Linked DNA regions of Homo sapiens. The protein of the gene in region 1 interacts with the protein of each later gene in a biochemical or structural test. Each region holds a gene or a part of one and is shown on either strand. Other genes may lie near its edges. The genes, in order: GRIP2, MTMR1, GOT1L1, GJC1, DUSP10, SMCHD1 and PTPRG.

Region 1 (3,500 bases):
AGGGCTAGAATGAGGGAGGGAACAGTCCTGTGCTCTCTGCTACTCAGAGCTTAGATCCTGGGCTCTTCTCAGTGACTCTCAGCAGATCCAGAGGAGGCAGCTGGGAAGTTAGAGAGGGCCTGGAGTTTCTCCTTTGAAGAGTCAGGGTCTCCCAGCTATGAGCAGGGAGCTGGGTGCTGGGCATTTCCAAGAGCAGAGGAAGTGGGTGGTCTGGGGGTCCAGAGGGCACAGTTGGGGCCAGGGGCAGGGTGGGGGGTGGCCACAGAGGGGCAGCTTTCAGCTCAGGGCAGGAAAGCACGTCCAGCAGCCCAAACCTTGGGCCTTGAGTGAAAGTCCCATCTTTGCTCCCAGCAGCTGGACAAGTGCTTTTCCCTCTCTGAGTCCCAGTCATCTCATCTGTAAAAAGGAGGGAGGACTTCTAATGCACAGACATGGGGGAGGCTGACGGAGATAAAGGACAAGGCACAGCCCAGGCCTATAAATCCTAGCCCTAAGGGCAGAGCTGGAGGGTGAGGAAGGAGTCTGTCCACCCCACCCTTTGCAAACCCCATCTTCTGGAAGAGAACGGAATCCCCCACATCTGATTGGGAGGACAGTTCTTGGGGAGAGTCCATCTCTATGGTCTCTGCCAGCTTCTGAAAAAGCCACACTGAATGAACCACAGTCCAGGGACTGGTCTGGGTGACATTAGGGCTTGAAACAGCGTCATTCATTCTCGTACCATTTATCGAGCATCTGCCACGTGCCAGGTTCGGTGCCGCGGCCTGCACGCCTCATTACTTCCTCATGACACCTCTCTGAGCTTAGTCTTACTGTCCTCCCACTTTACAGGGAAAGCTGAGGTAGCGTTGCAAGGCTACACATCTGCGTACAACCCCTTGGCTCTCATTAACTGAGCTTCTACTAAGTGCCAGGCACTGCTCTAAGCATGTTATATTATTAACTCATTCTAACCCTCCCCATTACCCGAGGAGGTGGCCACTCTCTTGGTCCCATTTTACAGATAATAGCACTGAGGCACAGATAGGCGAAGTGACTCCTCCAGGTCCCGCAGTTGGTCAGGGACAGAGCTGGGATTTGACCCAGGCAACTGGCTCCAGAGTGGGCCAAGCCCTGGGGAGGGGGGCTGTGGAGATGTGGCTCAAGGAGACAGAATCAACGGGCTGAGACAGTTGAGTCCTCACCTGTCCATCCGCGCAAGAGGAGAGCTGGCCTGGGGCGGTCTGGGAAGAGGTGTTGTATGGTGGCCAGTTTGGAGGATCAGATGGAGGAAGCAGGGTCTCCTAGGGGGTCGGGGCAGTGGGGGTTCCCTGGGAACTTGGAACAGGAGTGCAAAGAATTCACTGTGGATAAGGCTGGGAAGGGTTGCAGCCTGGGAAGGGGGAGCAGCCTCAGCCCGTGGTGCACTTCAGCCTTGGCCAACCCAGCAGGAAGCCCTGGAGCAAAGGCTGTCCTGGAGAGTCGTGGGGCAGAAATAGCCAGGCCCTAGTGCCCCGGTGCTCAGCCACTGGCCGAGGCTGCCTGGGCTGCAGAGCCACTGCATATCCCCAAAGTGCTGCAGCTGGACACCGTCTGCCAGCTGCACTCCTCACCAATTCTTTCTTGGAGAAACTTCATGGCAGCACTCATAGCCATAGACCTCTCCGGCTCCAGGGCAGGATGCCTGTGTTCAAATCCCTGCTCCACAACCTCCCAGCAGTGGGCCTCGGCCTGGCTTCCTTTCTCTCTCCTGTCCCTGCCTCTCAGGCTGCCATGTGGCAGCAGCTGCACTCTGAACACAGTGCCCGGCACATTGTAGGCGTCCGGGACATGTGAGCAGAATACTAAATGCCTTGCCTGGCTCAGGGGAAGCACGAGGATCTTCTGGTTCTTGCTTTCCTGGCTTCATAGTGCCCTCAGCCACTAACGCCTGCACCTCTCTTTCCTCTTTCTCCGCTGGCTACAGTGAAAGTGCAGAGGAGTGAGCAGCTGCACCGCTGGGACCCCTGCGTGCCCTCCTGCCACAGCCCCCGGCCCGGCCACTGCAGGATGCCCACCTGGGCCACACCTGCTGGCCAGGACCAAAGCCGATGTAATGTGCCTGCCCTGCTGTAGCTCAGCCAGTCTTGTAGCCTTTCCTAGGGAGGGGGCGATGCCTGTTGTCTAAGGGAAGGAAACTCAGACTCAGAGATTAGTGAGCTGGGTGTGGTGGTGCACGCCTGTGGTCCCAGCCACTCGGGAGGCTGAGGCGGGAGGATCGCTTCAGCCTGGGAGGTTGAGGCTGCAGTGAGTCAAGATCACACCGCCGCACTTCAGCCTGGGTGACAGAGCGAGACCTCAACTAAAAAAAAAAAAAAAAAAAAAAAAAAGAGAGAGAGATTAGGTGGCCTGCCTCATTGTCATCTAGCATGCCAGTGGCAAGATTGGCCCCGTCCCTAATAGCTGAGTTTCACAGGGTCTATGGAAACCCTGCAGTCTTTGAGACCCAGAGAGGAAAGGGACTTGCCTGAGGTCACACAATGAGTAACTGATGTGAAGGGGGAAGGCATCCCCATCTCTCCCTGTGGTTGGGTGGCTTCCCAGCACCCACTGTGTGGTGGGGTGGAGAGCCTCGGCTGGGGTTCACGGGGCTGTGCTCTCATCTCCCCAGCCTTGTCTTCAACTCCCTTTTCCTCGCCGACCTTGAACCACGCCTTTTCCTGCAACAACCCCAGCACCCTTCCCCGTGGATCCCAGCCCATGAGTCCTCGAACTACAATGGGGCGGAGGAGGCAGCGAAGAAGGGAACACAAGAGCTCGTGTAAGCTGTGGTCTCTTCCCTCCTCCTTGGGCTGCTTGTATGTCTGAGAGTGAGGCTTGCCAAAGGGTGTATGTCAGGGCGAGGGGAGGTATTTTGGGCAGAGCTCCAGGTGTATGCGTGGGAATGTTAAATAACATGAGTGGAACACCAGGCTGTCATGGATGGTTGGGCAGGTTGTGCACTGCTCAAGAGGACCACTGAGAGGTGCCAGTTACTTTGTACACTTTTATTCTTGTATTTTTATTATGAAAAATTCCTAGGATTTGGTGATAACGTCCTTGAGGAAAGGAAGTCTTTTCAGATGTGCATGAAGTTTTCACATTTTTTGCCATTCAGTCCTGATTCATTCATGGATAAAGCCTCAGTGCTGCGTTACTATATCCTTACCACCTCTCTGCCATTTGTTAATTTCCCCTAAGACAAAGACATGGCCTGAGACTCTAGCTGTCCAGAATGTAATAATTTCCAGTCTTACTTCTCTGCTTATTTATTGTTCAAAATTGCCCTTTTGAAATAAAGATATTTACATGTTAAGAAAAGTAAATCAATAGAAGACAAAAGTAGTGAATGATAAGGCAGGAGCCCTGTGGAAGTGGCAAAACACAATAATGCCTAAAATTTTGAAACCCTTCTTGGGAACAGTCTTTCCTTTGTTGATGCAGAAAGGGTTCTCAGCCTCCTGCCACATGAGCTGCAGAGGCCTCCAGGAAGGATAGAAGAT
Region 2 (3,106 bases), on another chromosome or scaffold:
AGGCCCGGGTGGTTGGTGGAGTGTCATGAACATTAGCAGAAAATCCAACAGAACCATGCCTGATCTGGAGTGCCTTTGGCTAAACAGAGCCTCTCGATTACTGCAGGAGACCCCCGTACCCCTGCCACGCTCCCCCTTGTGCAGCAGGTTGCAGAGGTGAAGAAATGCTGAACCAGCAGAGAGGGTTAGAGTGGTGTCCCACAGGGGTGCACCCAGGCTCAGATTCTTGCCCGCCGCGTGAGGCAGGTAACAGACCTTTCCTAAAACCTACAAACTGCGCGACAGATCTGTTCCCAGATGTGGTCAGGTTCTCACTCATGTAGGCGAAGCCACCTGCAACATCATGATGATGATGGAAACCACAGCGACAGCGCCTATAACCTGCAGTCCTCTTGTGTGCCAGTGGGTTCTGTACACACATGATCCCAGTTAACGCTCCCAGCAATTCCACGACGTAGAGAATGAGGGAAGGGTCAGAGAAGCAGTGACTTGGTTGAAATCTTGCTGCCCAGTGCGTGTAGTTGTGGAAGGATGCCCCCGACAGGGCCAGATCCCGTCTCTGGCAGTGACTCACCGCCTGATCTGCAGCAGGGTCCTGAGCCTCACGGGGACCTCACAGGGGGTTGCTGAGCAGGAAGTGAATCCATTCCAAGTGCACTGTGCTCGGAGGGTAGTAGGTGTGTGGTCCTGCTTTTTGCATTCTCCCTCCATTGTGCTACACAGAAGAGAGAACCAAAAAAGAGTACATGGGCCGCAGCTTGTTATCCTGTATGCAACAGGCATGTGTCGGACACCTCCTAGGTGTGGGAATGGGGGTGGGGGAGTGCATTGAAGACAGGCAGAGATCAGTGGCTGGTGTGGGTGTCCAGTGACAGGGCCTGAGGAGCCAGGTGAGGCAGAGAGAAGGAGGAAGAGAGGGGAGGGGAGGGAGTGCAGGGGGGTAAACGACAGGGCAGATGCAAGCCTGTTGGGCCTCTTTTCTCTGAGAAGGCAGTGGCTCGATTGGCTGCCGAGAAAGGGGTTCTTTGGGCATCCATCAGAGGATGGCTGGGTGTGGAAGGCCCAGGGGCGTCCTATTTCCTTTGGGACTGTCTTGCCTTATGTCTTGTGATGCTAGTACCCATGCGGCAAACATGACTGGCCCTTAGATGGGAATTTTCTCTAACACAATCCTCTGTTTAAGCCTCCGAGTTTTCTATTCCTTCAGGCATGCCCTTGATTTGTTGCAAATGAAAATATGTGAGTAGGCCAGGCGCGGTGGCTCACGCCTGTAATCCCAGCAGTTTGGGAGGCCAAGGCGGGCAGATCACTTGAGATCAGGAGTTCGAGACTAGCCTGGCCAACATAGTGAAACCTCATCTCTATTAAAAATACAAAAATTAGCCAGACACAGTGGTGGCGGGCGCCTGTAATCCCAGCTGCTCAGGAGGCTGAGGCAGGAGAATCGCTTGAATTCGGGAGGCGGAGGTTGCAGTGAGCTGAGATCGTGCCGCTGCACTCCAGCCTGGGGGAGAGAGTGAGACTGCATTCCGCCTCAAAAAAAAAAAAAAAAAGAAAAAGAAAAGAAATAGGTGAGAAAAGATGCAAACAGCTGGTGAAGAGATGATAGTGGTGCGTTTGAGCAGTGCTGGGTCTGCCCTGGGTGTGTGTCAGTGGTGTATTTCCCTGCGTGTCTTGCTTCTTGCTGAGGTCACATGCCTGTAGATGGATAATGGGAACTTGATTGCAAGGCGTCCCTTGTCTGATCAGAATTAAATGATCCTACAGACAGGAAAACGCATGCCAGATGGGTCCTAAGGGTAAGAGAGGAGCTGGTGCCACCTCCCAGAGGCCTGTGGGATCTGCCTTTGCCATCACACTCCACTCCTGTCCCCTCTGTTCTTCCTGTGGCCTGCCCAAGGGGGTCATTTCTTCTCAGCCCACTGGGTGCTGGTTACTGAGCACCTTGTTATTAGAGGGACCTGGCTGCCCCCTTGCGGTCTCGCTCTCATCCTCCTTCCGTCTCCCCCTTCCCTCCAGGAGGGCTGATCACCATTGGCACACACGGTGGAACAGCTCAGTCTTTGAGGGAGTGGGGGAAGGACCTGGTGAAAGATGAGCCAGAGGGCCAGGCTGGGGCCAGACTGCAGAGGGCCTCGAGGCCCCTCTCAGGGCAGGGGGAAGAAGTCCCTGGAAGGTGTTAAGTGGCCAGTCACATGGCCTGGCTGAGGCTTAGGAGCCAGCCCTGTGGCTGCTGTTTACACATGGGATCAGAGACAAGGGAAGGCTAGGGAGCTCCCCAGACCCCACCCTGTTTCTCCCTCAGCCCAGTCGGTGACCCCTCACTCTGGTCAGCCTTGCCCCCAGCCAAAGAGCTCCAGGTGAGAAAAGCTGGGTCTCGGATGTCTGGCCTCCTAGTAGCTGCTGGGGACAGCTTGTTAGGCGAGTGGGTTGGGTGCTATGACTATAAAATAGCAGGACTGGATGTCCCATATGCCCCGGGAAAACCTTTCTTGTTTATATTCACCCCTGCCCCACAGTTGATGGGTTTAAAAGAGAAAAGCTAATTAAAGGTGAGGCCTTGCGGTGATGCTGAGCAAGGAGGGAGGGGTTGGTCCTTGGGGAGGCTCCCCACCCCCCTGCCGGCACTGCCCGCTCCGGGGGGCTTCTGGCAGATCCTGCTCCGGTTGATGAAAACACAGCTTCAAGTTGTAAAAAGTGCTGATTTAACAGAAGGATTTTCAGTCAGCAGAGCTATTTATAAAAATGCAAAAATACAGAGATAATGGAGATGCTGGAAAGGGGTCTGCGTGGAAACATTTCTGACGCACAGTCTTTAGGACACTGCTCGTGCCGAGTCTGCACACGGCGCCCTCGGTTGATCCATGGTGCGCAGTGTCCCCGTGCCTGCTTGTCTTCTGAGAAACTGTGGGAGCCTCCCCATGGTGCCTTTTCATCCCGGCTCAGCGGCTCGGCCCCCGGAGCTGCAGGGCGGCCTCAGTGGCAGCCAAAGCTCATGGGATGGGGTCCCATTGTCCACCTGACGCGAGATCGGTCAACGCCTCAGGAGACTTTGGCCGCTCCAGGAGTCTGGATGGTGAAAAGCTCCTGAAGCCAACAGCATCTC
Region 3 (3,344 bases), on another chromosome or scaffold:
GTTGTTATTGACCTAGGATATCCTTCCAGCTTCTATTAGTTATTATTCATCCAATCCATTCATCTGTCTATCAATATCCCAATCAAGTGCTACCTCCTCATGAGATGCTCCCCATCTATTCTGGCCCACTTTGACGTATTTCTTTTCTAAATTCCTGGCACATTTTCTGTTTATATATTCTGACTTCTGTCACATTCAGCCTTAAAATGTTACTTAAGTGTTTTATGTGACTAAGGCTTGTCTCCCAACTAGACTGTAAGTGTCTGGAGAAAACAGGCTGGTTTCTACCTGTTTTTTGTACTCCCTTTCACGGCCAGCTCAGGGCCTTAATGTAGTAGGTGCTCAATAAATATGAGATGGCCAATGAAGGTAGATACACCCTTCCCCTCTGGGCCTTTCTCTCTCTCTTTCTCTCTGTCTCTTTCTCTGTACTGAGGCCAGACCACTGCTTCATAAATAAGCAAAGAAATGAATTGTAGTAATGAATAATCAGCACAAGATTTTTGCAAAGACTAAAGTTTTATTCCAATCAGTGTTTTTTTTTCCTTTGGAAGACACATCTCTGAGCTCTCTGTGAGGAGGACAGCCTCATTGATGCCCTCAGTGATGTAATTTATGTTGTTGGCATTGATACAGCTGAAGTTAATCTGACCGTTCTTGGGGATATAGATGTGCTTCTTCCTGACCAGGTATTCCACCTGCTGGGCTAAAATCATGACAAGGTCTCAGATCTCGAGACTGGCCATCTCGAATTCTCCTCTAGCCCAGGCTGGTTTATTTTCTTATTTTTTTATTGATTGATTGATTGAGATGGAGTTTTGCTCTTGTTGCCCAGGCTGGAGTTCAATGGTGCAATCTTGGCTCACTGCAACCTTCGCCTCCCAGGTTCAAGCGATTCTCCTGCCTCAACCTCCCAAGTAGCTATGATTACAGGATGCACCACCATGCACGGCTAATTTTCATATTTTATTTTTTAGTAGAGACGGGGTTTCACCATGTTGGCCAGGCTGGTCTCGAACTCCTGACCTCAGGTGACCCACCCGCCTCGGCCTCTCAAAGTGTTGGGATTACAGGCATGAGCCACTGCACCGGGCACCCAGGCTGGTTTATGAAGGATAGGGAGTGTCGGTACTTCTGGGGGTCCAGAAGTGTCTTTAAAGCAGCCCATTTTCCAGAGGACAGAATCAAAATCTGGAGTGAAGCTAGGAACTGGTCACCTAGTCAGTGAAGTTTAATGCTCAAATACAGGCCAAAGGTCAGAAAGGGGGGACACCAGCCCCCTAGACCCTTACAGTTGAGTCCAAGATAGCCGTGGGTCCCACTCTGCTCGGTGATGTGACCCCAGGACCCAGGGGTTCCCAGGAGCTGGAGTTTCTCCTTCACTTTTTCCTTGGTTAGCATGATGTTCTCTACAACTTCTTTTAGACTCTGCTTCCTACCAAGGAAGGACAATGAGAAAGGAGGGTGTGAGGTCCCCCTTGCCCTCAAACCTCCCTCATTGCCAGTCCACTCTTCTTACCTTCAAAGGTCTCCAACAGAGTGCCAGAGGCTCTGGGATGATTATGAGTGGGAGGGAGGTTTGATCTCATATTCATTTAAGCAAACCAGGGAGGCTCCCAGGCAGATTTTGCCAGAGTTGCAAGCCCCTGATGCTCTCTTATCTCCCCAAGCAATCTGGAAGAGTTCATATAACTCATTGGCCTGGGTGCAAAACAAATGTCCTATCACTCTGTCCCCTAAGGCAACCCTTGGCATAGCCACCGCCATTGGTACACATCAGGTCCTTAGTAAATGTTGATGAATGAATGGAGTAAAAAGGCCACATGGGCAGGAGAGAAGCACCCTGCCGAATCCTGCAGATCAGCAGGTCTGCAGGCACCCAGGGCCTCTCCCATCCCTTCCTGCTCCAGCCCTCACCCTTACCATTCTCCCAGCAGAGCAGGGTTGCAGAGGATGGAGGTGATGACACGTGCACCCGTGTTGGGGGGGTTTAGCCACAGGGCCTGGGCTAATCCTTCCAGCTGGGAGAGGACACACAGCAGCTGCTGGTTGTTGACTGCCACCACCACTAGCATCCCCACTCCTTCATCTGCAGTGTTGGGAAGACAGCCTCAGCCTCAGCCCCTTCCTCCACTCCCAAGGCCTTCACCTAGATCTCAACCCCCAACCTTGCAGAAGAAAGGGTTGAACCACAAGGCCCTCATTGCAGCCCAGCCAGGGTGATATTCAGGCTCCGGGAAGTTGCCAGAGGCTCTCCTTCCAGCAAAAGTACCCATAAGTCAGAGTCTTAAAGGAGGAAGGAATTTGAAAGATCACTAAGTTCTACTCTCCTGTTTTTTCCTTTCCTTTCCTTTTTTATTTTTATTTTTATTTTTATTTGTTTAAAGTGACCATCTCTCTCTGTTGCCCAGGCTAGAGTGCAATGGTGGAATCATAGCTCACTGCAACCTCTACCTCCTGGGCTTAAGCAATCCTCCTGCCTCAGCCCCCCGGGTGGGTAGGACTACTGGTGTGTACCACCATGCCCGACTAATTTTTTTAATTGTTTGTAGAGACCGGGTCTCGGTGTGTTGCCCAGGCTGGTCTTGAATTCCTGGCCTCAAGTGATCACCTAACCTTGACCTCCCAAAGGAGGGATTAGGAGGTGTCAACTGGGATTACAGGTGTCACCCACCATGCCAGCCCCACCCTCTCATCTTATAGTTGAGGAAACAGAGGCCTGAGGGGGTGAAATGATCCAAGCCAAGCTGGGTTGGGTTCTGTTACTAGATTTAGTAACAGAACCAAATTCTAGCTCAGTGCTCCCCACTTCTGCTTCTATAGTGCTCTCCCTAGAGTCCTTGGCTCCCTCCCAAGGATGAGATATCAAAAACATCACTGTGCTGTGAGCGCAGCACCACTTCAGCAACAGACCCTCCCTTCTTCTGCCTGTACCATACCATAAATGCCAAAATTCTTGGACAGAGACTGGCTGCAGAAGAACTCAAAGCCTTGAGACACAAAGTATTGTAAGATTCTAGTATCTTCTTCCAAGTCACTGGTGTATAAACCTTGACAGGGAATATCAAAAAATGGGAATATCTGCTTGCTCTGTAGGAGAAAGGAGAACAAAAAAAGAATGAGACAGATGGAGGAGAGAGCAGAGAGTCAAAGACAGGAAGGTCGGGTGGGAGATTGGGTTTACCTTTATCATGGACATCAACTTTGCCCACCCACTTGGTGTCAACTTGCAGTCGATAATGTTCCCCATCACAAGGACACAGCCATGTGGGATCTGCTGCAGGTACAGACGGTCTCATCAGGCTTCACCCCCACCCAGGAGTGGCGGCCCCAGGGCATTTGGG
Region 4 (3,500 bases), on another chromosome or scaffold:
CTCTGCCTTCCAGGTTCAAGGAAATCTCATGCCTCAACATCCCGAGTAGCTGGGATTACAGGTGTGCACCACCATGCCCGGCTAATTTTTGTATTTTTAGTAGAGAGGGGGTTTTACCATGTTGGCCAGGCTTGTTTCAAACTCCTGACCTCTAGTGATCCACCCACCTCAGCCTCCCAAAGTGCTGGGATTACAGGTGTTAGCCACCATGCACAGCCGAGAACTTTCTTTTATTTGGACTCCTGATTTTAGAATACCATGGTTTCTTTTAAAAAAAAAAAAAAGTACGATTATTAACACTGATTAATAACACATGAACCAAACCCACTTAATATCATTATTAAAAACAGGCTGGGCACAGTGGCTTATGCCTGTAATCCCAGCACCTTCGGAGGCTGTGATGGGAGGATTGCTTGGGCCCAGGAGTTTGAGACCAGTCTAGGCAACATAGTGAGAGCTCTGTCTCTACAAAAAATACAAAAATTAGCCAGGTGTGGTGGTGAGCACTTGCAGACCAGCTACTTGGGAGGCTGAAGTGGGAGGACTGCTTGAGCCAAGGAGGTCCAGGCTGTAGTGAGTTGAGATTGTGCCATTGCACTCTAGCCTGGGCTCAAAACAAACCCCAAAAAACAAAACCAAACATCAATAGAACTACATAGGGACAACAGCAAATACAAATCTTTAAACACTTCATGATGTGGCCGGAATGAGTACAAGTATGCAATTCAATGATTCCAACATTTGATGGTGACTGTGAATTATTACATATTTATTACACATAAATGAGTTTAAATTTTATTTCCAAACTGCATGCAGGGACTTTATTATTACTATGAATTTTTTTTTGAGAGTTTCACTCGTTGCCCAGGCTGAAGTGCAATGGCGCAATCTCGGCTCACTGCAACCTCTACCTCCTGGGATCAAGTGATTCTCATCTCAGCCTCCTGAGTAGCTGGGATTACAGGTACCCACCACCACGCCCGGCTAATTTTTGGTATTTTTAGTAGAGACGGGGTTTCACCATGTTGGCCAGGCTGGTCTCAAACTCCTGACCTTGTGATTCGCCCACCTTGGCCTCCCAAAGTGCTGGGATTACAGGCGTGAGCCACCATGCCTGGCCAAAACCTTTGATTTTTAAAAAGGCGTTTCTTGAAGTACCTTATTAAACATTTGATTTGAAGGAAACTGTGCATGTCTAACATACTTGCCTTTTACAGAAAGCTGGCTAGCCAAAAATGTATCATCAACTATCGATTTTATTTTCAGAAGTGGACTGTCTCTTAAATGAGACAGCATAAAGTATGGACTTGTAGAAGCTGAACGAGTAAATCATGAGTGTAACTGATAACATGTAAGTCCATTCTTCGTATAAACTGCTAGAGAGTGTTTCAGACCATCACTGATGTCTGTGATAAAGAGCACCAAAGCATCACAGTCCAACTTTTTTTTTAAGCGCCAAGTTCAAACAAGTGACCAATAATAATGGTTGGTCCTTGAAGGTCTTTTACCAGAGGCCTTTTCTAATCACTTCGTAACACTTCTGAGATGTACATGGCTCCTGAAACTTGAAAACAAAGCCACAAAATGAACATTAACATTTCTTTAGGGGAAAATGCTATCTAATTTTCCCCTCGTTTGAATTAACCAAAAAAAAAAAAAAAGCCTATTTCTTTTACAAATCTTCTGAATAACGGGTTTTAAGAGCAGGCCAGGCGCGGTGGCTCACGCCTGTAATCACAGCACTTTGGGAAGCTGAGGTGGGCGGATCACGAGGTGAGGAGTTCGAGACCAGCCTGCCAGCCTGGCCAACATGATGAAGCCCTGTCTATATTAAAAATACAAAAAAAATCAGCCTGGTATGGTGGTGGTGCCTGTAATCCCAGCTACTCGGGAGGCTGAGGCAGGAGAATCGCTTGAACCCAGGAGGCGGAGGTTGCAGTGAGCCGAAATCACACCACTGCACTCCAGCCTGAGCGACAAGAGCAAGACTCTGTCTTAAGAAAAAAAAGAGCAAAGGACACACCACATCTGCATAAATCCAAGTGTGTTAAGGAACATAATCATGTTGATTGTATCCTGATTCTAGCAGGTGAAGGACTAAGCACTCAACTTGTATTTGGAGGAGAAGCAAGTGTCATGATGGAGCATGTCTTATATGGCAATTCAAAACAGTATGATTCTGATGCGAGTGAGAACTAAATGTTGGACAGGCTTTTTATACAAATCCCACCTGCATGATCCAGAACAATATTCTTACAGATTCAATGCAGACTCCACCAATGGGTTAGCTAGACATCAACAGGCTCACTTTCTTTTTTTCTTTTTTTTTTTTTGAGACAAGAGTTTCACTCTGTCTTGCAGGCTGGAGTGCAATGGTATGATCTCAGCTCACTGCAACCTCTGCCTCCTGGGTTCAAGCAATTCTCCTGCCTCAACCTCCCAAGTAGCTGGGATTGCAGGCGTCCACCCAGCACTCCTGGCTAATTTCTGTATTTTTAGTAGAGATGGAGTTTCACCATGTTGACCAGTCTGGTCTTGAACTCCTGACCTCAGGTAATCCACCCGCCTGGGCCTCCTAAAGTGCTGGGATTACAGGTGTGAGCCACCGCGCCTGGCCCATTTTCTTAATGTAAGTCCACAATATGTCATTAGGGGAGAATGACTTTGGCAAACTCATATGCTTCAAAGGCAGAAAGACATGTACTAAGAAGGCAGTTAGAGCTGGAAAATTCTTGACATAATTACAACTTTAGCAAGAGAATAAAAATAGATTTTAAAAGTGTGTGCATGTGGGGAGGTGACAGAATATCTTTATATGTACTTTAAGAAGCTGACGCGTTATCCAGACACAAAAGATAACATTCTCATCAAAACAGGCCAAGATGAAACACCAGGGGCACTCTTCACAGAAATTAAGTGGATGCTTCTGGCGCCAAATGTCTTTGCCTGGTTCTTCCTGGCATTTCTGCTTGACTCCTTCCCCCTGTATCATTCTCAAATCCCCAGCCTTTCCACTGGGCAAAGCCACTCTCTTCTCCCTCAGGCTCTGAAGAGATAACACAAATGTATGGACACTTTTTGTCCTTCAATTAAAAAACCTGCTGGAAGCTCCAGTGATGTTAAGAATTAACTGGTAGTTCTTTATCTTAGCTAGGCTTATGTATTCCAAATTTTGCCTGTTTTCTTGGAATTATATGAATTTCCTTATTAAACATTTGATTTGAAGGAAACTGTGCATGTCTATTAATTACCCATGAGGTACATGTGTATTTCTGAAATTTCTCCTTCAGTCTCACCTGAGTTTAATTTTTGCCTAAGATGTTTAGAGTTCCTGAGGTGCTTCTCTAGGCTAAAATTTAAAGATTTTTTTTTAAAAAAGCAAATAAAAGTAAATGAATGGCTAAAAGATAAGGTTAAATTTTCTAGGCTGGGCATGGTGGCTCACACCTATAATACTAACACTTTGAGAGGCTGAGGCGGGAGGATCACTTGAACCCAAA
Region 5 (3,500 bases), on another chromosome or scaffold:
GTTGTCTTTCTTGCATTTGAATGATAAGCATTGTGATGCAGATTGCCCAGCCTGCAGATTAGTGCCTAGCACACCAAAGGCATTCAACAATATTTATTGAACAAACAAATGAATCTCCTCTGCCCACAAGTTTGTACAGCTGTGGAGACCACCTACCAAAAAGTCCCTAGAAGCCTAAGATGGTTGGGCTTCTTTGATACCTGTTTTGATAGCTGTTAACAGCTGAAACCACTAGGTTAACAGCTTAAACCACTAGGTTCCCCAGATGAAGAGATTAAATCAACATTAATATTTGGTCCATATTCTAATATCCAGGTAAATATATAGACCATGAACTGCTGGTTTTGAAAGTCCTCAGACTTTGGTCTTTTTAGTTCTGAACTGAAATCTCAAAATTCAAGAAAAAAGGCATCAGTACTCAAAAAATCTTATATTTTATGCTATATATTAGATTCTGTTGTTATTAAATAATGATACATACGAATACCTCAGTCTGTTGATATCTATTGAATCTGTTGAACCTGGCAAGACCTACTTTAACATTAAGGACTAAATCTCTAAAATTAATCATGCATGTGACCTTGGACAAGCCCCATTCCTGTAGTGGCATAATGAGAATACCGGACTAGATCAATGGTTCTCAAACTTTGCTGCCTGTTAGAATCACTTTGGGAGCTTTAAAAAAATCTTGATGTGCAGGCTGCACCCCAGACCAATTTAATCAGGCTTTCTGGACACACGAACTGGGCATCATAGGTTATAAATCACCTTCAGGTGATACCAATGAACAGCCTGCAGTGAAAACTACTGGATTAGGGGCCCTCTAAAGTTCCTTGCTCTTCTCAAAGCTGGGATTCTTTAGTTCCAAAAAGGTGAGATGACCTCTCCTGGAACTAGAATTTCTCTCCTTAATATGTAGTCTATCTTTTTCAACCAACTTGGATTAAACTGCCTAAGCACTCCGATATATCACACATTCATGCCCAAACTGCTCTTCAGCAATGCTGGGGCTTGGAGGTTCTGGCTTCTGATAATGCAGGGTTTAAGGAACTAGATTTTTGCTACTGGTCAAAAGCTCCCACTTAGTCCCTGAGGGTGTATGCACCAGGAGTATGTGACGGAAAGTTTTTCTGCTCCTGTAATTTTGTCAGACCTTCAGATGGGTTTGCCTAAAGGACCAAGTAGAAAAGTGTACATATTCACCATTCTCCCTTCTCCTTTCTCCTATACACACGTGCTTTGAAAACAGAAATAGGCAAAGTGCTTTACCTATTCAGTTTCCTTCCCCTGCTTTGCTTTTCTAATGTGAAATCATGTCTCCTATTGCCAGGAGAGGAGTTTCTTGAACTTGTCCATGACAAGCTGGATGATTAAGTTAATTAACTGTTCTGAATTGGTAAGGGCAAGAGTATTCATACTTAACAGGCTCCCACAGTACTGTGCTTAGAACGACTTGCCCATCCTCCCCAATACCCCTGCCCCTGCAATGTAAGAGGTTCTTACATTAGTGCATGAGAGTAGGAGAGCAGGGTCCAGAGGCTTGATTTATTGACAGCCATCAAATGCCAGGTACTTTGTATCACCTTGTTTCAACCTAGGATGCTGGAGCTGTCCCTGTTTTACAATGAAGAAAACCTGGCCTCTGAGAGGCCCCCTGATTTGCCTAAAGGCATACAGTTGGTCAATGGAAATGCCTAGATTTGAACCCAGGTGTAAGTGAGCAAAATTTCACTCTGCTGAGCACATCGTGAATGAGGAACAGATAAAGCAAGAACATGGCTGGGAGAGAGAGTTCATTTCTATTATCTGTTCACCTACACTTAAATTAGGAAGCAGGAGAGTGTACCCAAAAGCTCAGAGAGAGGACAGCCAACTAACTGTGCAGCAGTTCAGAAAGAAGTTTCAGGACTTCCTGAAAGACAGGAGCAGGCCATTCAACTCCTTCCCTCCTTTTTCCTTCACATTCTAACTCAACACAACCCTAGGCTCAGGAACCAGCGCACCCCTCCTTCCATCTACCCTTTTATAGTCAGTCCACAATCCTTATTCCAAAAATAAATCCTCCTGATGAGATGATGAGAGGCAACAAAAAGCAAAGCTAAAAAGTTTTATGCTTTTGTTATGGGACATTATTTGGACAGAATTATTATCATGTTTTTACAAATTTCCCTAAAACAAATAATTCTGGATATACCCAAATTACTCCAGCCTCCTGGCCCAATATGTTTTTGCAATTACTTGGCACTCCAACTCTATGCAACTTAAATTAGTTAACAGTCACCAAGTTATTTTTAGGCCATAGCAACACACACACTCTACTATACCTAGCTTGTTATTTGTACTCCTTAGGAACAAAATTTGCCTTTGTACTGGCACTATCATTTCCTTTCAATCAATATCAATAAAAACATTCTACCATATTTATGGAGTGCTTACCATGTATGTGTATAAAGTTCTGAACACTTTACACACATTAATTCATTTATTTCAGAAACTAACACTTTGAGATAGCTATTGTTATATCCTCTTTTTGTTAATGAGGTAACTAAGGAACTGAAGGATTCAGTTCCTTCCCCAAGGGCACATACCTAGTTAGAGGGGAGCCAAGGCTAGCATTCAGGCTGACTAGATCCGAAGTTCTGCCTTGATTTCTCCATCATTTGCTACAAGGCTAATGTTTGACATTTTAGCCTTGGATGTTAACCAGAGGCTCAGAATAACAACAGCACGTTTATGAATGTAGATATGTCTTTATTTCAGGTATTTTTTAAAATCCTCATAACATCTCTGAGAGAAAAGGGGAGACTTTTATTCCCTTCCCCACCCCACCCCCGAAAAAAGGGCAGAAACAGAATATTTTTCACAGGTCTCTGATTTCTGAGCCTAGCCATCCACTTTGTCATAGAACTCTATTGCCAATAAGAGTATATTTCAGAATTCTTTTCAACTAGGGAAAAGTGTGCAATGTATGGTGCTCAATTCTAAGGAGTGATGAAGTTTTATAGTATAAAGGCCTAACTGCCTGCATGATCAAATCCTCCCCATGGATCATCCTTTTAAACCATTTCCCTCTTCTTCTCACATTCCCCCAGTAAAGGCCTTTGGTACAGAGCAGTCCTATAAAGATTGTAGCAGTTGGTCATTCCTTGTTTTACAACAGCATAGAGCAAGTAGAGGCATGGGCTCTGACATACCAGGGAGGAAGGGGGACACACAGACCCCAAGGAGGCACCTGGAGCCCTCCTACTCCCAGGGAGGGAAGCTCCTCTGTAGACCTGACTGCCAGTCAGTCACAGAGGGATTCGAAGTTGAAAAGCACTTAAAAATGGGTACATGACACTCAAGTGTTTACGAGTGAAAATGTTCATAGTATACTATAAAATATTTCCAGCTTTATTGAATTTGAAACATTAATTTACACATTAAACATACTTAAATACATTAAAACATTATCTATATTTTTAAATATTTCAACAGAAAAGAGAAAGCAAATAGGAAAA
Region 6 (3,500 bases), on another chromosome or scaffold:
AAAAATAATAGACTTATGTGGGATTATATGGAATAATTAGATATGTTTAGGTGAACATAGATCTTAAAAAAATCATTTGCACATAGTTTTTCAGTAACTACAGGATGCATAATTACATGATTTAACAAGTGGGACATTGGCCAGGCCTGGTGGCTCACGCCTCTAATCCCAGCACTTTGGGAGGCCAAGGCAGGGAGATCATCTGAGGTCAGGAGTTTGAGACCAGCTGGCCAACGTGGTGAAACTCTGTCTCTACTAAAAATGCAAAAATTAGCCAGGTGTGGTGGCACACGCCTGTAGTCCCAGCTGCTTGGGAGGCAGAGGCAGGAGAATGGTGTGAACCCGGGCGGCGGAGCTTGCAGTGAGCTGAGATCGTGCCATTGCACTCCAGCCTGCACAACAGAGCAAGACTCCATCTCAACAACAATAACAACAAAAAACCAAAAAAAAAAAAAAAAAAAAAAAGGGACATCATAGAAATAAAAAAGTAGTAATGAATTAAAAAATACACGACTGTCATGGTTATATGAAACCTAATAAAAATCTATAAGGTCATTTTTGTCTCTGTTAAACAAATAGAATCTTCCCAGTCAGTTTATGTTCATGGCTTTATTTCTCTAGGGTGGAATTGCATGGAATATGAGTATCTTTTAAGTTTACTAAAGTATGCCAAATTAATTACTTTCTTTATGTTTGACTTTTTTTCAGTCATATCAGCAGTGTGTAAGGTACCTATTTCTCTGTACAGAGGCCTACACTTGATGGGCTCAGAATTTAACATTTTTGCCTACCTGATGAGAATAAGTTATATTAATTTCACTGATAACTAGTGATGTTGATCTTTTTATGTTGTCTGGTCTTTTTCTTTATGACTTGTGCTATTTGCATCTTTTGAGACAGAGTCTCACTCAAAAGTCACCCAAGCTAGAGTGCAGTAGTGTGTGATCACGGCTCACTGCAGCCTCGGCTTCCCAGGCTCAGGGGATCGTCCAACCTCAGCCTCTTGAGTGGTTGTGACTACACGTGTGCACCACCATGCCCAGCTATTTTTTTTTTTTCCATTTTTTGTAGAGATGGGGTTTTACCACATTGCCCAGGCTGGTCTTGAACTCCTGAGTTCAAGCAATCCGCCCACCTTGGCCTCCCAGAGTGCTGGGATTACAGCTGTGAACCACTGTGCCTGGCCCACTGTTTGTACCTTTTCAGAAATCCCTTTATGCTCACTCAAAATTATTTCCCTATGTGTTCTTTTACAATTTTGGGCTAATGTACAACTGCTTTAATTCTCCTGGAATTTATTTTTGTCTAAGTTAAGGTGTGGATTTTATCTGTTTCCATGTTGAGATAACTAGTTGTCTTAATATCATTCATTGGATAGTTTATTCTTTCCCCACCAATTTGTAATGTCACCTCTCTTGTTTGCTAGGCTCTGCATCCATATATATGTGGACCTGTCTAAGGGCCCTCTATTCTCTTCCACTGGTCTATTCCAGGAATTTTTTTTTTTAAGACGGAGTCTCGCTCTGTCGCCCAGGCTGGAGTGCAGTGGCGCGATCTCACCTTACTGCCAGCTCCACCTCCCGGGTTCACGCCATTCTCCTGCCTCAGCCTCCCGAGTAGTTGGGACTACAGGCGCCTGCCACCACGCCTGGCTAATTTTTTTGTACTTTTAGTAGAGACGGGGTTTCACCGTGTTAGCCAGGATGGTCTCGATCTCCTGCCCTCGTGATCCACCCTCCTCAGCCTCCCAAAGTGCTGGGATTACAGGTTTGAGCCACCGCGCCCGGCCTATTCCAGGATATTTTAAAGTAGAAATTTTCTTATGAAAACCTTCAGACACAAAGAGAGAATCATGTTATGAACCCCAGTGTACTCATCCAGATTCAAGTTAATAGGAATTTACCACACTAGGATCATTTTTGTTTTTGTAATGTATTTAAGGCATATTCTAGGTCTTAGGTCATTTCACCCCATATACTTCAGCCTGAATATGTATTATCAAACCATTAAAATAAAGCATTTTTAATATTGTCTAATGTCCCTGTCCATATTGAGTTCTCTGAATGTTTAAAAGTATCTTTTTATAGTTGGTTTGTTTAAATCAGGATCTGACATAGTCCTCACATTAAATTTGTTTTTTTTTTGTTTCCTAATTATTTTCAATTTAAAGCATTTGAGCAAATTCCTCCTCCACCAGTCTCTTTAGTTTTCCTGCAGTTGACCTCTTGAAGAAATCAACTAGGTCTTTAATATTCCACATTATGGATTTGTTTGTGCTCTTTTTTGGTGTTACTTAATTTGTTTTATCTCCGTATGTATTCTGTAAACTAAAAGTTAGCTTTAAAGGCTTGATTTGATTTAGGTTCAACTTCTTTGGGGTCAGGAGGCAAAGAATGCTTTGTAGGTAGTACTGATACTTCATATGGCATTACACTGGGAGGCACGTGATGTGTGGGTGTTTCACCCACTCATAGCAATGCTAACATTAAAATCTTGGGATTCACGTGATTTCAGCAGGATTCCTCCATAAGGAAGTTTTGATCTGACTTGCCATTCCTCCTGTGTTTATTAGCTGGAATTCTTTAAGGAACAACTTTGCCTCATCAGCCAGAGCTATTTTGGTTATCCTGAAGTACCATTGATACAAGAAAAGCAGTGTAAATAATTTGTTCTTTCCCTTTAATTTGTCAGTGTTCAGAGTGACAAGTTGGTGCCCTAGCTCATCCCAGTGGTGAGCAATAATGGTTTTTATTAATATCATTTTTGAAGATTTGAGTATCACTAGTCTAGATTTTTTAGATGTTTTCAATAAGAATGTTAATCTTTAGACTAGTCCATTACTACCCGAAACAGAAGCCTTTTCTCTTAACTATATATTGCTGTATTGTTTCATTTTAGACAGAGCATGTATGTTTTAATTCTAATGTAAATGAAAATGTTAACCACTTTTCTAATTCTCATTTTTTGATTAATGTGATTTTACAGTTCATGTGTTCATTGGTCATTTGTATTTTCTCCTTTTCATTTTTTTGTGTTTTTACTTTTTCTCTTTGTTGATCCTTGTCACCCTTTTGTTTCTTGTTGCAATTTCCCTCTAATTTTTTTTTTTCTTTGAGACGGAGTCTCATTCTGTTGCTCAGGCTGGAGTGCAGTGGTGTGATCTTGGCTCACTGCAACCTCCGCCTCCCCAGTTCAAGTGATTCTCCTGCCTTGGCCTCCTGAGTAGCTGGGATTACAGGTGTGCGCCACCACACCTGGCTAATTTTTGTATTTTTAGTAGAGACAGGGTTTCACCATGTTGGTCGGGCTGGTCTTGAACTCCTGACCTTGTGATCCGACGGCCTCAGCCTCCCAAAGTGCTGGGATGACAGGCATGAGCTACCATGCCTGGCCAGTTTCCCTCTAATTTATAATTTGCTTTAATTTTTAAAGTTATTCGTTTGAATGGACCTGTATGTCTTACAAAGCATGGCTGTTCTTCCCTCCGTGCTATAAAATGC
Region 7 (3,500 bases), about 48 Mb from region 1:
ATGCCGACCCCTGAAGTGGAATGTCCCCTTAGCACCTGACTCAGGGCTGAGCCAGAAGATGCAGTCAGTAAACCTTCAGCAATGAGTGTTCACATACTGAGTTTCTGAGCAAGATTCAACCTGAAAAAAGAGTTTCCCTAATTTAAGGAAACAAAAATGGAAAATCCCAGCACCAAATGATGAATTTGTAGATGATGCCCACTCTGAAATGTTTTTGTAGGGTATGCTGTACTGCATAGTACCCCCAAGAACATTTCATTGCATCAGTTGGCTTCTGGGCTCACGCTGTGGCTCCTCAGGATGGGACCACATGCTGGATTTCCATGTAGCAGACATCCAGCTGAGGGCTTTGCACTAAAGAAACGCTAGAAAAAAGCCTGGTGAAAGGGAGGGAGTACACCTAGGCCTTCAAGCCTTCTGAAAGGCTTCTCAGGAAGTTGCAACTCTAGCAATCAACACTACAGTAGAGGTTGACCACCCGCGGTTCCTACCTGGCCCAGGGATGGGTTTAGTTTGGCCTACATTTTTAAAAAGCAGAAATTGTTTTAAAAATTTGAGCTTACTTAAAAGTTGGGGGGTTCTGCACAAAAACCTGGATTTCTGGCTCACTAGGCATTCTCACTGGCAGTAATCTGTTGGAGCTGAGTGAGATGGCCCTCTTTAGAAAAGTCATGTGCTCTTTAATTTGCTGCAGTCCTTACCACTCCCTAATGTCTAACACCTGGTCCTTGTTTCTCATTAGTATTAACTGGTTTCTGTAGGTGTCTGGGTTTGCCACTTCTTCTATAGAAGGATTCCCTTCTTCTTCTTCCCTGGGAGATAATATATTAAAGCCACTACTCACAGGACTTAAAAATATGTTATGAAACACCAAAGGGATTTAAACAAGCTGTTTGGAGATACTCATAAAAATATAACAGTGTGTAACTTTACACATTATCACTCTTTTCAGAGACCAGGTATTGATTAAAGTAATTGTTTTTCCTTAATATGAAGAAAAAATAAATGTGTAACAGATTTAAAGCAAATGTACACACAAAGTCCTTAAAATAAATCACTAACATTAAAATGATGGCGATTTCATTAAAAAATAAATACCATACTGGAGGAGGCAGACAGGGCAAAGGACAGGGTGAATGGAAGTGAAGCAAGACCTGAAGGATCATTGACTGATGTGGGATTTGCTTGTTTTACCTTCAGGTCACTCACGTCCTTTACTAATCAACAGGCACATGCAGATTTCTGTGTAAACCAGGGGTTGGCAAATGACAGATTGTGGACCATATCAGACCCATCGCCTGTTTCTGCAAACAAAGTTTTAATTGAAATACTATCACATCCTCTCAGCTGTGTATTGTCTATGGTGGCTTTTGTGCTACAAGGCAGAATTAAGTAGCTGCAGCAGAGACCTGTGGCCTGCAAAACTGAAAAACATTTACTCTCTGGCCCTTAGCTGAAAAAGTTTGCTTATATCTGGCTTAAACAATCATCACCACCATTTTCAGACTTGAACTGCTTGAAATTTTCAAGGAAGTTTTTTTTAGCTTTCAGAAGTGGACCTTCTCACTTTGCTGAAGGTGATAAGGGAAAGCTCTGATTTACCAGTGTTGAGTTTCAGGAGGAGGTCCTTCTTTTTTTTTTTTTTTTTTTTTTTTTTTGAGACAGAGTCTTGCTCTGTCAGTGGTGTGATCTTCTCACTGCAGCCTCTGCCTTCCAGGCTCAAGTGATCTCCCACCTCAGCCTCCCGAGTGGCTGGACTACAGGCATGAGCCGCTGTGCCCTGCTAATTGTTGTATTTTTTCTAGAGACGGGGTTTCACCATGTTGCCCAGGCTGGTCATGAACTTCTGGATTTAAGCGATCCACCCTCCTTGGCCTCCCAAAGTCCTGGGACTACAGGAGTGAGCCACTGCACTCGGCCATCTGGAGGTCATTTTTAATGGCAGTTACTTGGGGACCAGTAGCTTTAATGTCCACAGACAATAGCAAAGGAAAGGGCTGTGGGGGGCCTCCTCACAGTCACCATCATTGTGTGGCACCTGGGCTGCTGACAGCTCCTATTTGTCAGTGACAGTGAGGGGGTCTCCACAGCCACACCACCTTCGGCATTAAGCATGATCATTAGCTCCACTTTGCAAACGAGGACACGGGACTAAGACTTACCTGAGGACCCTGAGTGAATAAGGGACAGAGCCAACTGGGTTGATCTGACTCCCAAAGCCACTCTGCCAAGATTGTAGATGCTCTCAGATTTCTGTAGGGTGGAAGCCGAGGACCTACACACCTCATACCTGGAGTAGGGAGCCCCCAAAGTTTGCCATCCATTTCTTCTCCCCTGTCTCTGGAATCTGGAACCTGACTCCAATGGCAAGAACTCATTTCCACTTACCTGGGGCGGTCCCAGTCCCTGCCTCTCTCCCATCTCTCAAACTGTAAATACTCCCAGCCTAAGCTCTCAGCAGCCACATTTTTCAGGAATGTGGTCAAACAAATGTTTAAGAGGAGCAGGCTGAGAATGCTACTTTGCCAGAGCCCATAGTCCAGAGGCTGAACACTCAAGCTTGAAAGTCAATTCCAAGTCCACCACCTGTCTTCATAGAAAACACACTGGTCCAAGCCACCATTACCACTGCCTCCTAACTGGGCTTCTTTCATCCATTCCTGCCTTCCTATATCATCTCCACGCAGAGGCCTGAGAGGTCTTTCAAAAAATCAATCAAGTAACACTGCAGCCAAGATCTACCCTGGTTTCTCATTTCTAGTAGAAGGAAATCCTCAGCGTGGTCAACGAGTACCTTTCCAGAGCACCTCCATCAATCTCTAAATCCATCCCCTCCTCTCCCCCTCACTCCCTCTGGTCTAACCACACTGGCCTGATAGCTCCTCAACTGATCCAAATTAATTCCCCACTGTAGGGTCTCTGGACCTGCTGTTCCTGCAGCCCAGAATTCCCCTCCCTGGATCTTTGCATGGCTAGCTCCTTCTTACCACTTGGCTCTCTGCTCAGAGGTCATCCTTGACCACTCAGAGCTACACTGTCCCTCCGCTCCCCAACTGTAGCAATTAAGGCTACTTAAGGGTATGTATTTGTTTACTGGCATATTCTCAAGCTCCCCTACCAGAATGCAAACCCCAAGAGAAGAGAAGTCTGTGTTACCTATGTTCTACTGCCAAAGCCTAGCCTGGTGCCTCTTATACAGTGGGCATTCCGTACATGTTTCTTCAGCGTCTTCAAATGCAAGAAATTCAACTTTTTCAAAGTAATTCCTAGAGGGAATGTCACTGTTCTTACAGAAACAGCTTCCCAAGTGGCCCCACATTTCCTTCACTCAGTTCCACAAAAGGCTACTCTGCACCTTTCCCCCAGTCACAGCTAAAGTGAGCAATACCCACAGGAGACCCCCACTTCAAAAAATTAGTTCATAGCAGCTTTAAGAGGAAAGTAATTCAAAACATGAAAATTTATTCTAAGTTGTATCTTAACATACGAGATCTCAGCTT

The links.
Region 2: the proteins of GRIP2 (region 1) and MTMR1 interact in a test that uses a peptide from one of them, tested with the Homo sapiens proteins (one large-scale study listed by IntAct).
Region 3: the proteins of GRIP2 (region 1) and GOT1L1 interact in a test that uses a peptide from one of them, tested with the Homo sapiens proteins (one large-scale study listed by IntAct).
Region 4: the proteins of GRIP2 (region 1) and GJC1 interact in a test that uses a peptide from one of them, tested with the Homo sapiens proteins (one large-scale study listed by IntAct).
Region 5: the proteins of GRIP2 (region 1) and DUSP10 interact in a test that uses a peptide from one of them, tested with the Homo sapiens proteins (one large-scale study listed by IntAct).
Region 6: the proteins of GRIP2 (region 1) and SMCHD1 interact in a test that uses a peptide from one of them, tested with the Homo sapiens proteins (one large-scale study listed by IntAct).
Region 7: the proteins of GRIP2 (region 1) and PTPRG interact in a test that uses a peptide from one of them, tested with the Homo sapiens proteins (one large-scale study listed by IntAct).

Annotation. Positions count from the first base shown.
Region 1 is NC_000003.12:14,516,343-14,519,842, reverse strand, and holds part of GRIP2 (glutamate receptor-interacting protein 2), read left to right. Parts: intron 1-1,945; coding exon 1,946-2,071; intron 2,072-2,629; coding exon 2,630-2,779; intron 2,780-3,500.
Region 2 is NC_000023.11:150,759,396-150,762,501, forward strand, and holds part of MTMR1 (phosphatidylinositol-3-phosphate phosphatase MTMR1), read left to right. Parts: intron 1-3,106. UniProt on the Homo sapiens protein: Lipid phosphatase that specifically dephosphorylates the D-3 position of phosphatidylinositol 3-phosphate, generating phosphatidylinositol. Could also dephosphorylate phosphatidylinositol 3,5-bisphosphate to produce phosphatidylinositol 5-phosphate.
Region 3 is NC_000008.11:37,933,781-37,937,124, forward strand, and holds the end of GOT1L1 (putative aspartate aminotransferase, cytoplasmic 2), read right to left. Parts: intron 3,278-3,344; coding exon 3,185-3,277; intron 3,091-3,184; coding exon 2,940-3,090; intron 2,090-2,939; coding exon 1,924-2,089; intron 1,675-1,923; exon of another isoform or gene 1,520-1,674; intron 1,436-1,519; coding exon 1,293-1,435; intron 707-1,292; coding exon 513-706; 3' UTR 501-512; downstream 1-500.
Region 4 is NC_000017.11:44,799,288-44,802,787, forward strand, and holds part of GJC1 (gap junction gamma-1 protein), read right to left. Parts: 3' UTR 1-3,500. UniProt on the Homo sapiens protein: One gap junction consists of a cluster of closely packed pairs of transmembrane channels, the connexons, through which materials of low MW diffuse from one cell to a neighboring cell.
Region 5 is NC_000001.11:221,732,090-221,735,589, forward strand, and holds part of DUSP10 (dual specificity protein phosphatase 10), read right to left. Parts: exon of another isoform or gene 3,346-3,500; intron 1-3,345. UniProt on the Homo sapiens protein: Protein phosphatase involved in the inactivation of MAP kinases. Has a specificity for the MAPK11/MAPK12/MAPK13/MAPK14 subfamily. It preferably dephosphorylates p38.
Region 6 is NC_000018.10:2,662,226-2,665,725, forward strand, and holds part of SMCHD1 (structural maintenance of chromosomes flexible hinge domain-containing protein 1), read left to right. Parts: intron 1-3,500. UniProt on the Homo sapiens protein: Non-canonical member of the structural maintenance of chromosomes (SMC) protein family that plays a key role in epigenetic silencing by regulating chromatin architecture.
Region 7 is NC_000003.12:62,205,071-62,208,570, reverse strand, and holds part of PTPRG (receptor-type tyrosine-protein phosphatase gamma isoform 1 precursor), read right to left. Parts: intron 1-3,500.